Homo sapiens: one gene and its partner. The protein of the gene in region 1 interacts with the protein of each later gene in a biochemical or structural test. Each region holds a gene or a part of one and is shown on either strand. Other genes may lie near its edges.

Evidence for each region.
Region 2: the proteins of NOSIP (region 1) and IPO7 form a complex in vitro, tested with the Homo sapiens proteins (one study listed by BioGRID).

What each region holds. Positions count from the first base shown.
Region 1 is NC_000019.10:49,576,757-49,584,478, reverse strand, and holds the start of NOSIP (nitric oxide synthase-interacting protein), read left to right. Parts: upstream 1-3,922; 5' UTR 3,923-3,964; exon of another isoform or gene 3,965-5,338; intron 5,339-7,601; exon of another isoform or gene 7,602-7,720; intron 7,721-7,722. Other genes in the region: PRRG2 (transmembrane gamma-carboxyglutamic acid protein 2 isoform 1 precursor), read right to left, coding at 527-566, 762-937, 1,175-1,259. UniProt on the Homo sapiens protein: E3 ubiquitin-protein ligase that is essential for proper development of the forebrain, the eye, and the face. Catalyzes monoubiquitination of serine/threonine-protein phosphatase 2A (PP2A) catalytic subunit PPP2CA/PPP2CB.
Region 2 is NC_000011.10:9,422,158-9,429,957, forward strand, and holds part of IPO7 (importin-7), read left to right. Parts: intron 1-848; coding exon 849-983; intron 984-1,619; coding exon 1,620-1,719; intron 1,720-2,756; coding exon 2,757-2,833; intron 2,834-2,988; coding exon 2,989-3,105; intron 3,106-6,382; coding exon 6,383-6,472; intron 6,473-6,608; exon of another isoform or gene 6,609-6,797; intron 6,798-6,873; coding exon 6,874-7,039; intron 7,040-7,516; coding exon 7,517-7,677; intron 7,678-7,800. UniProt on the Homo sapiens protein: Functions in nuclear protein import, either by acting as autonomous nuclear transport receptor or as an adapter-like protein in association with the importin-beta subunit KPNB1.

The DNA of each region.
Region 1 (7,722 bases):
ATAATTAAAGGCCTGGCGCGGTGGCTCACGCCTGTAATCCCAGCACTTTGGGAGGCCGAGGCGGGCAGATCACGATGCCAGGAGATCAACACCATCCTGGCTAACACGGTGAAACCCCGTCTCTACTAAAAATACAAAAAATTAGCCGGGTGTGGTGGTGGGTGCCTGTAGTCCCAGCTACTCGGGAGGCTGAGGCAGGAGAATGGCGTGAACCCGGGAGGCGGAGCTTGCAGTGAGCCGAGATCGCACCATTGCACTCCGGCCTGGGCAACAGAGCGAGACTCTGTCTCAAAAAAAAAAAAAAAGCAAAAATAAATATTTAAAAATAAAATAAGGTGTGGGGGGCTCCTCAGGCAAGCTGGGGTCTTAAGGGAGGGAACTCCTTTAGCAGCCAGCTTCAGAGAGCACAGAATTGGGGGGCAGACGATTCTTGTACCTAATTTGGGGTGGAGGACGTTGGTTTGGCCTCGCTGGGAAGGGACTACCTTAGCTGCACAGAACAAGATGGCTTCAGCCCCTCACTCACCTCCTTTGCCATTGTAGATGTAGCTCTCCCAAAAGCGCTCCTTGAGGGGGAAGGAGTGGAAAAGAAGGGGAAAAAGCAGGAATTCAGCTGGGAGGTTCACACCCCCAAACTAGCCCATCCTGATTTCTGAGACACCAAGGAGGAGGGAGCTGAAGGCCAGAACCTACCCCTGCAACCTCCCCACAGGTATAGAGAAGAGAGAGGGCCCGAAACTCCAGGGTCTCGAGGCCCTCACCGTGAGAGTGTTGTCCTCAAAATACTCCCTGGCCTCTTCCCAGGAACACCTCTCTTCCAGACACTCCCGTTCCAGGTTCCCTGGTGTGAGCAGCTCCAGGTCCCAGTGGTTGGCTCTTGGAATCCGGGTATGGCTACTCAGGAAGCTCTGGGCCTCTGGGGGACCCAGGAAGACTTCTGGACCCAAAGACATGAGGGACAGAAAAATGGAGGGTCCCTAGGGCTGGAGTCATAGGGGGATGGAAAGCAGTGGGGTCCTGGAGGAAGGAGCAGGGGCTGGGAATCCAGATTCCTGGGTCTGAAGGAGGAAGGGGCTGGGTCCTGGACTCCTGGAAGAGGAAGGACTAGAAACATTCCTGAGTCAGGGGGAGGCCAACGCCAAGTGTCTGGATGCCACTTCCCCCAAACACTCACCTTGGTCTGTCTCCTCACTGGGTGAAGTATCCAGGCAGGTGGTTAATGCCATATATAGCAGCAGCAGAGAGGGGTGGCCCCTCATATTTTCCAGACACCTAGAACCAGGTTTGTTACAGCTGACAAGGGCCTTAGTCCCTGGGTAATGAGGCAGTGCCTCTCTGACTGGCCTCTGTGGTCCACGAATGGCAATAATAGCAGCCACTTACACAGCCTGTATTCTGTGCCAGATACTGTTTACCTATATAAACTCATTTTACTTTTTTTTTTTTTTGACATGGAGTCTCGCTCTGTCAGCCAGGCTGGAGTGCAGTGGCACAGTCTCAGCTCACTGCAACCTCTGTGTCCTGGGTTCAAGCGATTCTCGTGCCTCAGCCTACCAAGTAGCTGGGATTACAGGCATGCGCCACCACACCCGCTAATTTTCTTTTTTTTTTGAGACAGAGTCTCGCTCTGTCACCCAGGCTAGAGTGCATTGGTGTGATCTCCGCTCACTGCACACTCCACCCCCCAGGTTCATGCCATTCTCCTGCCTCAGCCTCCCGAGTAGCTGGGACTACAGGTGCCGGCCACCATGCCCGGCTAATTTTTTTGTATTTTTAGTAGAGATGGGGTTTCACTGTGTTAGTCAGGATGGTCTCGATCTCCTGACCTCGTGATCTGCCCGCCTCAGCCTCCCAAAGTGAATTTTCATATTTTTAGTAGAGATGGGGTTTCACCATGTTGGCCAGGCTGGTCTTGAATTCCTGACCTCAAGTGATCTGCCTGCCTCAGCCTCCCAAAGTGCTGGTGCTGGGATTACAGGCGTGAGCCACTGTGCCCGGCCTCAACTCATTTTACTTTTCACAGGAGTCATACAAAAATTAGCCAGGCGTGGTTGTGGGCGCCTGTAATCCCAACTACTTGGGAGGCTGAGCCAGAATAATCACTTGAAAGGGGAGACAGAGGTTGCAGTGAGCCGAGACTGTGCCACTGCACTCCAGCCTGGGTGACAGAGCGAGATTCCATGTCAAAAACAAAACAAAACAAAACTTTTCACAGGAGTTTTTTTTTTTTTTTTTTTTTAGACAGAGTCTCGCTCTGTCACCCAGGCTGGAGTGCAGTGGCGCTATCTCAGCTCACTGTGACCTCTGCCTCCTGGGTTCAAGCGATTCTCCTGACTCAGCCTCCCGGGTAGTTGAGATTACAGGTGCGCACCACCACGCCTGGCTAATTTTTTGTATTTTTAGTAGAGATGGGGTTTCACCATGTTGGCCAGGCTGGTCTCAAACTCCTGACCTCAAGTGATCCACCCGCCTCGGCCTCCCAAAGTGCTGGGATTACAGGTGTGAGCCACTGCGCCCGACCAGGAGTCCTATTATTATCCCCAGTATAGAGAACAGGAAACTGAGGCACAGAGAGGTAATATAGCTTGCCGAAGGTCACACAGTGTGCAAGTGTGAGAGCCAGGATTTCAGTGAAGGCAGTGTCCGCCAGAGAAGAAAGCAAGGAGCAGGCAGCTTATCTTTCTTTCCCCACTGTGTCTACAGCACCTGACACAGATGCTTATAAACATGTCCACTGGTGATCTGGAGTCTTCCCTTCCTGGTAATTTCCACTTGTGCCTCTTTCTGTGCTCATTGTCACATCCACCCACAGACAACAAAGATTACGAGAGAGGCAGAGGCAGGGGATTAGTTATATTATTGGGTCTAGGGACCTAAGTGGGCAGGGGCCCTGGACTCCTGGGCCTAGGAGCCCCAAACTTCTGGGTCTCGGAGGGGCGGGGAGCCAGGATGCCTGGGTCCCCAAGCCAGGCTCTTCCTCCAGGGACATTCACTTACCTGCCCAGAAATGTGAGCACTGCCCCTTCCTCTTTAATCGAGAACTCCTTGGCCAGCTACAGCCAGCTGTGAAAGGGGACAGGGAAGAGGGGAGGGGATAAGGAGGAGGGGCGCCCCACTCCCGGTAACCAGGCCTGATCCCCGTTTCTGGCAGGTGGGCGGAACTTGCCATTACCTGCCCTGGGCGGGACTCAGGTAAGGGACAAAGTATTTAAAGGGACCTTGGGATAAAGGACTTAAAGGCCAGAGCTCCATGAGGAAGCCAAGGTGTCGAATACCATGGGATACCTGGGGGATTAGATTCGACCCTCCTCCTCCCTCCCGACCCCTACCCGCTCTGGCTCTCCCCTGGGAGTTCGTCTGTCCGAGCTAGAAAAATTAATATCTAGGTCTCTAGGTATCTAGAAACTAGCGGGAACGATATGCCTTAGTCCCTGGGACAGCTGGGCAGTGCCGCAGTAAATCCCTGTTTCCTGAGAGCGACTTGAACGGCTTTGATTTTCAATTTCCCAATGGCTCTGTCTGTAAAATGGGAGCGTAGTTGTCTCTTCTCAATTGTTTTAAGATGCAGCAAGAAAAGTGGATGATATATTTGGGAAAGTGGGCTTCCCGATCTCTAGGGGAAGTGATTAGTCCTTAAATTTGGGCTTGGAGAGACTCAAAACCTGGGAACCAAGCAGGAAAAAACGATCTCCCTGGGAAATGCCTCGTACATAGTAAGCGTTCCCCATATTCCCACCAGTTTCAATATCCGGAACTTTCGATTAGCTACTCACGTTTCCGGAGAGAGAAAGAGAAGAGAGGACTTGAGCAAGCCAGGCGAGGCACTTCCGCAACTAGGGGCAGCTCTACTTCCGGTGCCTTCTGCTGGGCGGAAGTGGGCGGAGCGGAGGGGGAAAATAGTGCTCCTTTCCGGTGTCGGGGCACAGTTGAAGAAGCGACCGAGGGACTGGGAGTCGTTAGTGAGGTGAGTTCGAGGCGGTGCAGGAAGAGTGTTGCTGGGATCGCTTTCCTGCGGGCTAGAGGCCTGGGGTCTTGAGGGAGACTGGGGCAAGATTTTGGATTCCCGATTCCCTGTCAATCATTATTAATACAGCTGTCCGGGCGCCCCAAGTTTGAAGCTGAACTACACTCTGCTGGAGGTGGCCAACCGTCCATCGGGCAGTTCTCTCTCTCTTTGTCTCTCTCTCTCACTATAAACTCAGTCAAGTGGTAGCTAGCATCGGCCAGTTCTCCTGAGAGTTACAGTTCTGCTGTAGATGATGGCTATTTGCTGGTGGTCCCAAGGGAAGGAGTGGACTGGGATTGCTGGGGGTCTAAGGAGTGGGAGTTGAGGAGGGAGAACTCCTTTCCTGGCCTCAGTTTCTCAGACTGTGGTGGGACGGCGGGCGATACTAGATTGTGCAGTCATCCATCGCCACCTTCTCTTCACCTTTTTGACAGCCCCTTCCCTTTCGGGGTTGGTGCAGGGATTCACGTTTTCTTGTGTGGAGCTTCGGGGTCAGGCAGTCATGGATTCCCATTCTGATTGTGCTGCTAATTCTGTGAACTTGGGGCTTGAACGGTCCTTGAGGCAGTTTGATGTTAATGTTTTCTTACGAAAATGTTCAAACTTATATAAAAGTGAGAGAAGAATACAGGAATTCCTGTCACCCAAATCACCAATGATTATTTTTGCCATACTTGCTGTATTTTTTTAAACTTAAAGAGATTAAAACAAATCGTAGGCATCATGACACTTAAGGATTGTCAAAAGACAAAATTGCAACACATTTAGTGAGAAGATCTTAATTGGCATTTATTCGTGAATCTACAATCAAACAACATCTAATTATGGAAAATAGCGTGAGTGTTCCGATGAGCTGAGCAGAGGTTGTTTTCAGAGACAAAGGGCTGAGAAAATCAGAAACGGAAAACAAAAAGCTAGTTGATTAAATTGATTAACTTGATTAAATTTCTAAGTTAAAGGTTAAAGTAGAGGGGACTTCCTTTATCAGGTGGGCTAAAACTGGGTTGTTTGGGGATTTGGCTATTATCTCTCTCCTGATATCTCAGAAGATCAGATATCAACTTAGTTTTGGCTTGGAAGCATGGAACTTTAGCATGAGTGTCTCCATTTTGGTTTGGTCTGTTGAACCTAGTGCAGGAGCTCAATCCAAACCAATGACCTTCTATAAATTTTATCTAACAGGGTGCGTGTGTAAAAACCAGAAACATTGCTGATATGACCACAATACCATCATCACACTTTAAAAGAACAACCGTAATTCTAGACTACTATCCATTACGTGGTGCAGAGTCAAGTCCAGTGTAACTGTGGGTTTGTTGGAATCAGGATATAGTTAAGTAATTGCTATCGTCTTTTACATCTCTCTTAATTTAGAACTGTTCCCCCTTCCACTCCACTTTGGTTATTTCTTGGTGTAATCGATTCATTGAAGAAACTAATTCTAGTTCAGTTGATCATCCCACCATCTGAATTTGTCCCGTTTGCTTTTTTGTGGTCTCATTTTACCTGCTTCTGTTTTCTTTCTTTTTTTTTTTAAGTATTTAAAAATAGGCCAGACACAGTGGCTCATGCCTGTAATCCCAGCACTTTGGGAGGCCAAGGCGGGCGGATCATGAGATCAGGAGATCAAGACCATCCTGGCTAACACGGTGAAACCCCTTAGCCGGGCATGATGGCAGGCACCTGTAGTCCCAGCTACTCAGGAGGCTGAGGCAGGAGAATTGCGTGAACCCGGGAGGCAGAGCTTGCAGTGAGCCGAGATCACGCCACTGCACTCTAGCCTGGGCGACAGAGTGAGACTCTGTCTCAAAAAAAAAAAAGAAAAAATAGATAGAGACAAGGTGTCACTATGTTGCCCAGGCTGGTCTCAAACTCCTGGGCTTAAGCGATCCTCCTGCCTTGGCCTCCCAAAGTGCTGTGCTTAGATTACAGGTGTGAGCCATTGAGCCCGGCCTCATTTTACTTGTTTCCTCATGCCAGGGATCAGCTAATTATGTTCTACAGACCAAACTCAAATCCTGCCAGCTACCTGTTTTAAAAATCCCCATTGGGCAGGCACAGTGGCTCATGCCTGTAATCCTTGCACTTTGGGAGGTGAAGGCAGGTGGATCATCTGAGGTCAGGAGTTCGAAACCAGCCTGGCCAACATGGTAAAACCTCATCTCTACTAAAAATACAAAAATTGGCTGGTCATGGTGGCTGGCACCTATAATCCCAGCTACTCAGGAGGCTGAGGCAGGAGAATTGCTTGAACCCTAGGGACAGAGGTTGCAGTGAGCTGAGATCATGCCACTTCACTCCAGCCTGGGCAAAAGAGCATAACTCCCTCTCAAAAAAAAAAAGCATTAGTGGGATATGATTTACCTAACATATAGTTCACCCATTGAAAATATACAATTCAGTGGTGTTTAGTACGTTGACAGAGTTGTGCAACCATCAACACTATCATTTTAAGAATATTTTCATCACCCAAAAAGAAACCCTGGTACTCATTAGCAGTCATTCCCTATTTCCTCCCAATCCTTCCCACCCCAGTCTTTGGCAGCCACTACTCTGCTATATCTGTGGATTTGCCTAATCTGGGTATTTTGCACAAATGAAACCATAAAATATTATTGTGACTGCCTTCCTTCTTTCATTTAGCATGTTTTCAAGGTTCACCTATGTTGTGGCATGTATCAATACTTCTTTTTTTTTTTTTTTTTCCCGAGACACGGCCTTGCTCTGTTACCCAGGCTGGAGTGCAGTGGTTCGATCATGGCTCACTGCAGCCTCAACCTCCTGGGTTCAAGTGATCCTCCTGCCTTGGCCTCCCAAAGTACTGGGATTACAGGTGTGAGCCATCGGCGCCCAGCCAGCTACTTTATTCTTTTTATGGCTGGATAATATTCCTTTACCCAAGATATACTTCTTTTCTTTTTTTTTCTTTTTTTGAGACAGAGTCTTGCTCTGTCACCCAGGCTGGAGTGCAGTGGCGTGATCTCGGCTCCCAGGTTTGAGCGACTCTCCTGCCTCAGCCTCCCGACTAGCTGGGGCTACAGGCATGCGCTACCACGCCTAGCTAATTTTTGTATTTTTAGTAGAGATGGGGTTTCGCCATGTTGGCCAGGATGGTCTCGATTTCTTGACCTCATGATCCGCCCGCTTTGGCCTCCCAAAGTGCTGGGATTACAGGCATGAGCCACCGCGCCCCGCCTGCATGGATGTATGTTTTTATTTCTATTGGCAGTGGAATTGCTGGGTCAAAAGGTGACTATTTAACCTTTTGAGAAACTGTGACTTTTCCAGAATGGCTGTACCATTTTACATTTCTACCACCAATGTATAAGGGTTCCAGTTTCTCCATATCCACACCAGCACTTATTATTTATCTTTTTGATTATAGTCATTCTAGGGGGTGTGAACTGGTGTCTTTTAACATGCTTATTGGCCATTTGTAGATCTTTGAAGAACTGTCTATTCCAATCCTTTACCCATTTTCAAATTGTGTTAGGTGTCCTTTCATTATTGAGTTGTAAGTTTTTAATATATTCTCACTGCAATTCCCTTATCAGATATCCTGATTTTTTTTTTTTTTTTTTTTTTTTTGAGACAGAGTTTCACTCTTGTTGCCTAGGCTGGAGTGCAATGGTGCGATCTTGGCTCATCACGACCTTCGCCTCCCAGGTTCAAGTGATTGTCCCATTTCAGCCTCCCGAGTAGCTGGGATTACAGGT
Region 2 (7,800 bases), on another chromosome or scaffold:
AATCCCAGCTACTCGGGAGGCTGAGGCAGGAGAATCACTTGAACCCAGGAGGCGGAGTTTGCGGTGGGCCGAGATTGCACCATTGAGCAAAACTCCATCTCAAATAAATAAATAAATAAACAAATAAATAAATAAATAAAAATACTGTGAATTTAATATCATACTCTTGATTCAAATAAGGCATCAGAACATTTAACACCATGGTTTTGTACCATTGGTGCAAATACTCATTTACTCAAAACACAGTTTTGTTTTTTTTTTTAAAAAAAGACAATATCATTATGAAAGTAGCTTTAAACTAGTAGATCCTCTGAAATAGTCTTGGGGACCACTAGAGGTTTGTGGACCACATTTTGTGTGTCAGTGTTCTGAAACATGAAGTAGAGTTAGAACTATTGACAGATGCTAAATAGGCAGTTGACTGCTTTGGGTAAGGTTTTCCCAGAAGATGGCTTTAACAAGATAGGGTTTTCTCCCAATACTGTGGTTTTTCAATAGGTAGCAAATGGGTTAGGTGTGGTGACTTACACCTGTAATCCCAGCACTTTGGGAGGCTGAGATGGGAGAATCGCTTGAGGCCAGGAGTTAGAGACCAGCCGGGGCAACGTAGTGAGACACTGTCTCTAACAACAACAACAAAAAAAACCCCAGAAAAACGAAGATAGTATATAGTTTTCTCTTCTTTTCATTCTTAATCAGAAATGAGTTAAATTATTTTTCAAAGTATACGGTTGTTTTTCTTGATGATGAGCTTGTCATTAAAATATGTGTTAACTGTTTTTACTGGCTTGTAAGTGGTTGAAATTTCTATTTGAACATTGATTTGTGATCGAAAATTTTTTTCCAAGGTTTTATTGAAGGTGTTATATCAGTACAAGGAGAAGCAATATATGGCTCCTCGAGTTTTACAACAGACATTAAATTATATTAATCAAGGAGTTTCTCATGCTCTCACCTGGAAGAATCTGAAGCCCCATATACAAGTAATAATTTTTATCTGAAATGTTTTTATAGTAAATATAATAGAAATGACATCAATTGCCATAAAGGTTGAAAAATTGCATGTTTGTTGAGTTGTGTTACTTAGACTACTTCTGGTGATTGTTTTGAGAGTATAGCAGAAAAAGGAGATAAGACAGTGACATAAAGTTATGAGAGGTATCTTGTGAATATTCAACTTATCTTTTAATCCAAAACTGTTGTCTTCAAACTTGCAATTTAAGTTCTTAATATTGGACTATGATTATATTTTATCATGTAATTTGGAGTAGCCAAGGGACTTTATCTCACCAGATTCATTTCTAGTATAAATGACTTACCTGCTATTTCTATGAATAATTTATGTGCTTTATTTAGAGCTGTAGAATTTTATAGACTATATATATTTAGAATACTTAATTGCGACCTTTGTACACATATATCTTAAAGTTACTTGTTACAGAAAGGGGAAGTACATGTAGTTTGATAGTTGATCTTAGAACACATTAAATGCATTACTAACGTTTGATATTAAGCTTTAAAATACATATAGTGTTACTTTGGTTTTAATACTTAAAGGAAATTTGAAGGTTTAAATTTGAAAACTGATGGTTATTGTTTTCTTAACTTTTAAATTGCAGGGCATTATCCAAGATGTTATTTTTCCATTGATGTGCTATACAGATGCTGATGAGGAACTTTGGCAAGAAGACCCTTACGAATATATACGCATGAAGTTTGGTAAGGAATTTTCACGTTTTTAGAAACAAAAAATGTCAGTAATTAAGATTACAGTGATTGCATGTAGCCAACCTAGGGGGTATTATGTATCTTCTTTGTTGTTTTAATGTAATTGATCCCTTGTGTAGTCCTTTTTGGGGCTATTTATTAATTATGACATTTGATAATGATAATCTTATTTTTGGCAGACACAAATTCAATACTGTTAAGTTTTTATTACTGAATACCAAAACTGTTAGATATTCAAGATTACACCTCAACACTAAATGTCTTAACTATACTTTTGGATCTTATGTTAGCCATCATATGAGTGGGAAATGAGAAAACACATCTAGGAAGCTGGTGTCACATGAAGTCCTTGCACAGAACTAAAGAATTGTAATTTGGCTAATAATGTTGAATATTGGTCCTTATTCTTACCAAGTCATTTGTGCTTTTTGCAGCTTGTACTTTTGTGACCCTGTTGTGAAAATTCTCACATCAGTAGTGTTTCATACATACGATTTAAACTGCTGAGTTCTGAGTTAATAAATAAAAATGAAAGCTATTAGGAGGAATTCATGGATTAACATTTAATTTTCACAGGCCAGGTGCGGTGGCTAAGGCCTGTAAATCCCAACGTGTTGGGAGGCCGAGGCAGGCAGATCGTTTGAGGTCAGGAGTTTGAGACCAGCCTGACCAATATAGTGAAACCCCATCTCTACTAAAAATACAAAAATTAGCCGGGCGTGGTGGCAGGCACCTGTAAACCAGCTACTTGGGAGGCTGAGGCAGGAGAATTGCTTGAACCTGGGAGATGGAGGTTACAATGAGCCGAGATCGCCCACTGCACTCCAGCCTGAGTGACAGAGCGAGACTCCATCTCAAAACAAACAAAAGCATTCAATTTGTACAGAAAAGACATTGAATTCTGCTTTTGCAAAATTATAAAGGGATCTGGGATCATTTTCATACCTTATGTAAAGATTAAGCATGTTTTTTAATGCTTTGTTGAAGAAATTAATGTTTATTGTCTTAATTTTAAACTTGTTCTCTAGATGTGTTTGAAGATTTCATTTCTCCTACCACTGCTGCCCAGACACTTTTGTTTACAGCCTGTAGTAAGAGGAAAGAGGTAGGCTTATTTAATGTTTAGATAACTTTTCTGTATTATTTAAAATTTATTCAACTATACACTTTTTAAATGTTAGTCATGTGAGTCATTTTGTTAGTATGTTTTTTAAGGACTGTTGGCCTATTCAGTAACAATACTTTTCTCTTTTAATCTAGGTACTGCAAAAGACTATGGGATTTTGTTACCAGATTCTTACAGAACCAAATGCTGACCCTCGAAAAAAAGATGGAGCCCTGCATATGATTGGCTCTTTAGCTGAAATACTTCTGAAGGTATTCTTTAGTGTGTTTGTATGTGCATGACTATGCAAGTAGTTTTAAAAAATAAATAGCCAGCCAGGCACAGTGGCTCACTTCTATAATCCCAGCACTTTCGGGATGCTGAGGCAGGCAGATTGCCTGAGCCCAGGAGTTTGAGAACAGCCTGGGCAACATAGTGATACCCCCATCTCTATAAGGATAAAAAATAGGCCGGGTGTGGTGGCTTATGCCTGTAATCCCAGCTATTTGGGAGGCCAGGGCGGGGGGATCACCTGAGGTCAGCAGTTGAAGACCAGCCTGGCCAACATGGTGAAACCCCGTCTCTACTAAAAATACAAAAATCCGCCGGGCGTGATGGCTCACGCCTGTAATCCCAGCATTTTGGGAGACCGAGGTGGGTGGATCATGAGGTCAGGAGATCGAGACCATCCTGGCTAACACAGTGAAACCCCGTCTCTACTAAAAATAAAAATAAAAAATTAGCCGGGCATGGTGGCTGGCGCCTGTAGTCCCAGCTACTCAGGAGGCTGAGGCAGGAGAATGGCTTGAACCCGGGACGTGGAGTTTGCAGTGAGCCGAGATCACGCCACTGCAATCCAGCCTGGGCGACAGAGTGAGACTCTGTCTCCAAAAAAAAAAAAAAAAATCAGCTGGGCATGGTGGTGGGCACCTGTAATCCCAGCTACTTAGGAGGCTGAGGCAGGAGAATCACTTGAACTTGGGAGGCGGAGGCTGCAGTGAGCCGAGGTCATGCCACTGCACTCCATGCTCCAGTCCAGGCGACAGAGACTCCGTCTCAAAAAAAAATAAAAAAATAAAAAATAACAACCTTATGGAGTGTACAACTCAGTGGTTTTTAGTTTATTCACAGTTGTATAACTATCACCCCCAGAAGGAACTCTGTATACATTAGCAGTCACTCCACATATCACCCCAAATCTCCCAACCCTAGGCTACCTATAGTCCACATTTTTTCTATGGATTTGTTTATTGTGGACATTTTATATAAATGGAATCATATAATACGTAGCTCTTTGTGGGTGACTTCTTTCATTTAGTGTAATGTTTTCAAGGATTATCTGTGTTATAGCAGGTTTCAGTACTTTTTCCTTTTTGTTGCCAAATTATATTTCATTATATTAATATACCACATTTTATTTACTCATTCATTAGTTGTTTCTACTTTCTGGCTGCTTACAAATGTTGCTGTGAACATTCATGTTTAAATTTTTATGTGGACATACGTTTTCATTTTTCATGGGTATATACCTAGGAGTATGAATTGCTTGTCATAATTTGAGACACCGCAGAACCCATTTTCCAACGTAGCTATACCATTTTATATTTCTGCCAGCAGTATATTTTGATTATAGCCATCCTAGTGAACGTGAAGCATTATGTCTTTGTGGCTTTGAAATTTTTCATGTGCTTACTATCCGTTTGTATATTTTCTTTAGAGAATATCTATTCAAATTCCTTGCCCCAAAAAAATTGCTTGCCTTTGTTTTTTTTCTTTTTATTTTTTGAGATGGAGTCTTGCTCTGTCACCCAGGCTGGAGTGCAGTGGTGAGATCTTGGCTCGCTGCAGCCACCAGTCTCCCACATTAAAGTGATTCTCCTGCCTCAGCCTCCCAAGTAGCTGAGATTTCCGCCTCCCCGCCCCCCCGCCATATGCTGGAGTGCAGTGGCGCAATCTCGACTCACTGCAACCTCTACCTTCCGGGTTCAAGTGATTCTCATGCCTCAGGTGCCTGCCCCCAGCCTAATTTTTGTATTTTTAGTAGAGATGGGGTTTTGCCATGTTGGCCAGGCTGGTCTCAAACTCCTGGCTTCAGGTGATCCGCCTGCCTCAGCCTCCCAAAGTGCCAGGATTACAGGCGTGAGCCACTGTGCCTGGCCCTTGCCCATTTTTAATTGGGTTATTTGTCTTTTTATAATTGAGTTGTTAGAAATCTTTACATTCTAAAGCCAGGCACTAAGTACTCACAGAATATTTAGTCATTGTGTCTTTTATCTTTTCGTTTTTTGGAAATGGAGCCTCGTTCTGTTATACAGGTTGGAGTGCAGTGGCGTGATCTCTGCTTACTACAACCTCCACCTCCTGAGTTCAAGCGATTCTCCTGCCTCAGCCTCCCGAGTAGCTGGGACTGCAGACACCTGCCACCACACCAGCTAATTTTTGTATTTTCAGTAGAGATGGGGTTTCACCATGTTGGCCTGGCTGGTCTCGAACTCCTGACCTCAGGTGATCCACCCGCCTCGGCTTCCCAAAATGCTGGGATTACAGGCGTGAATCACTGCACCCGGCCGTCTTTCATCTTTTCTATACCTGTTCACCCATCCTTCTCTTTGTTTATAAAGTATGTATTAAAGACATTCTAATCATTTGTGGCATAGAAGGCTGAGAATTAGTGAGTTCTCTTGGCAAATTCAAGTTTATCTATTCTTACCTTTCACTCAGCTTCACTTAGTGGTAATACCTTACATAGGTAGGCAAAGTTATCAAAAACATGAAGTTGATTTTGGTATGCTACTATCAACTAATCCATGGACCTTTTTAAAGTTTCACAAGATTTCCCACTATGTCCTTTTTTCTGTTCCATGACCCAGTCTAGGGTCTCACATTGCATTAAGTTGTCATGTCTGATTATGTAAGTGTTGATATATAAGTGTCTTATGTTTTTAATGTTGATTTAATGTGCAGTTTAAGGAACTCTTCTAAAAAGCTTCTTTCCACTTAGAAAATACTCACTTTGAATACTGAGAGTGCCTTTTTAGAGAATCACTTGAATCTGGGAGGTGGACATTGCAGTGAGCCGAAATTGTGCCACTGCACTCCAGCCTGGGCAACACAGCAAGACTCCGTCTCAAAAAAAAAGAAAAAAAAAAGAGTGTGCCTTTTTAGATAGCCAGTTTATTCGTTTGAAAGCAGGATTTTTCTCAGGTTATGTTATTTTCAGCCAGAAACTTTATCAGACAAGTTTTTTCCTTATAAAAGTTTCATAGTAACAGATAAAATTAACCAAACTTACATCATTCGAACACTATTGCTGGTAAGATTTGGCATAATGGCTTTCTAATCAAGGAATATAAAAACGTGAAAATGTGTTTAGTGGTTTTTGGTGGTGAAGTTCTGGAATACGAAAATTGGTTGTGGATTCTGGGGTTCAAAGAATGAGAATAAATATATGTAACATTAATAGTCATTTTTAATAGTGTTATATCTGTTTGGAAATTGAGATGATTATATTTGGAACTGTATCAAAATAACTGTTGTTTATATTTACAGAAAAAGATCTATAAAGATCAGATGGAATACATGTTGCAGAATCATGTATTCCCTCTCTTCAGCAGTGAACTAGGCTACATGAGAGCAAGGGTATGTTTTAAAGCTGCATTATTTATATACTTTTGTCTTGTAATGAATGACTCTGTGGACTTTTATATTGAAACTTTTAAATGTTCACTTTGAAGCCTGTGTCTTATTTTAGGTTTCTGTTTAATGTAAATCTTTACATGGCTGCTGTAATGTGTGCATAGGTTTCATCTGTGTCTGGTAGCAGTGTCTGTCTGTGTTTTTCATTCAGATCTTGCTATCCACACAAACATCATGCGGCCAAAGAGTAACTTGGGATCATAGTACTGGTCTAGTGTTGTCTCTGGACACATCTACCACTGGCCAGCCTCCAAATTCCCACACACAGAACTCAGGGAATAGAGATTAGCTTGGGGGAATTTAAGGTAAGGTATCTACAGTAACTCACTGTGTTTTTACAAAAGGCTTGCTGGGTACTTCACTATTTTTGTGAAGTGAAGTTCAAAAGTGATCAGAACCTTCAAACAGCCTTAGAGCTAACAAGAAGATGTCTGATTGATGATAGAGAAATGCCTGTGAAAGTGGAAGCTGCCATTGCCCTTCAAGTATTGATCAGCAATCAAGAAAAAGGTAAAGGATTTTTGTATGTCAAGAAAAGTGAATGTTGGCCAGGTGCGGTAGGTCACACCTGTAATCTTAGCACTTCGGTAGGCTTAGGTGGGAAGAGCGCTTGAAGCCAGGTGTTCAAGACCAGCCTGGGCAACATCTCTACAAAAAAAATTTTTAAAAATTAACTGGACATAGTGGCATGTACCTGTAGTGCCAGCTACTTGGGAGTCTGAGGCAGCAGGATCACTAGAGCCCGACGGTTCGAGGCTGCAGTGTGCTACGATTGCCACTACCCTCCAGCCTGGGCAACAGATCAAAACCCTGCCTCTTATAAAATATATATATATATATTAATTGTAAAAAGCCATAATCCTAGAAACTTGGCATACTTCCTTTTTATGTGAAAGTACTTTTTTAAAAAACTCATCGATATTTGTTATATCAGGTTTTAAGAAGTTTTAGGGGTTTTACGCAAGTTTTTTACTCTTTCTCTTACAGCTAAAGAATATATCACACCATTCATCAGACCTGTAATGCAGGCTCTTCTTCACATTATAAGAGAAACAGAAAATGATGACCTTACCAATGTAATTCAGAAAATGATCTGTGAATATAGTGAAGAAGTTACTCCTATTGCAGTAGAAATGACACAACATTTGGTATGTTGTTTGAACCTACCATATTTGCAAGCATTTTAATGTAGCTCTCAGTATGTTCCAGGTTGTGTCACCAGTGGCTTGCCTTACCTTATAGCAGTCAACCTTTTTGGCACCTGGGATCGG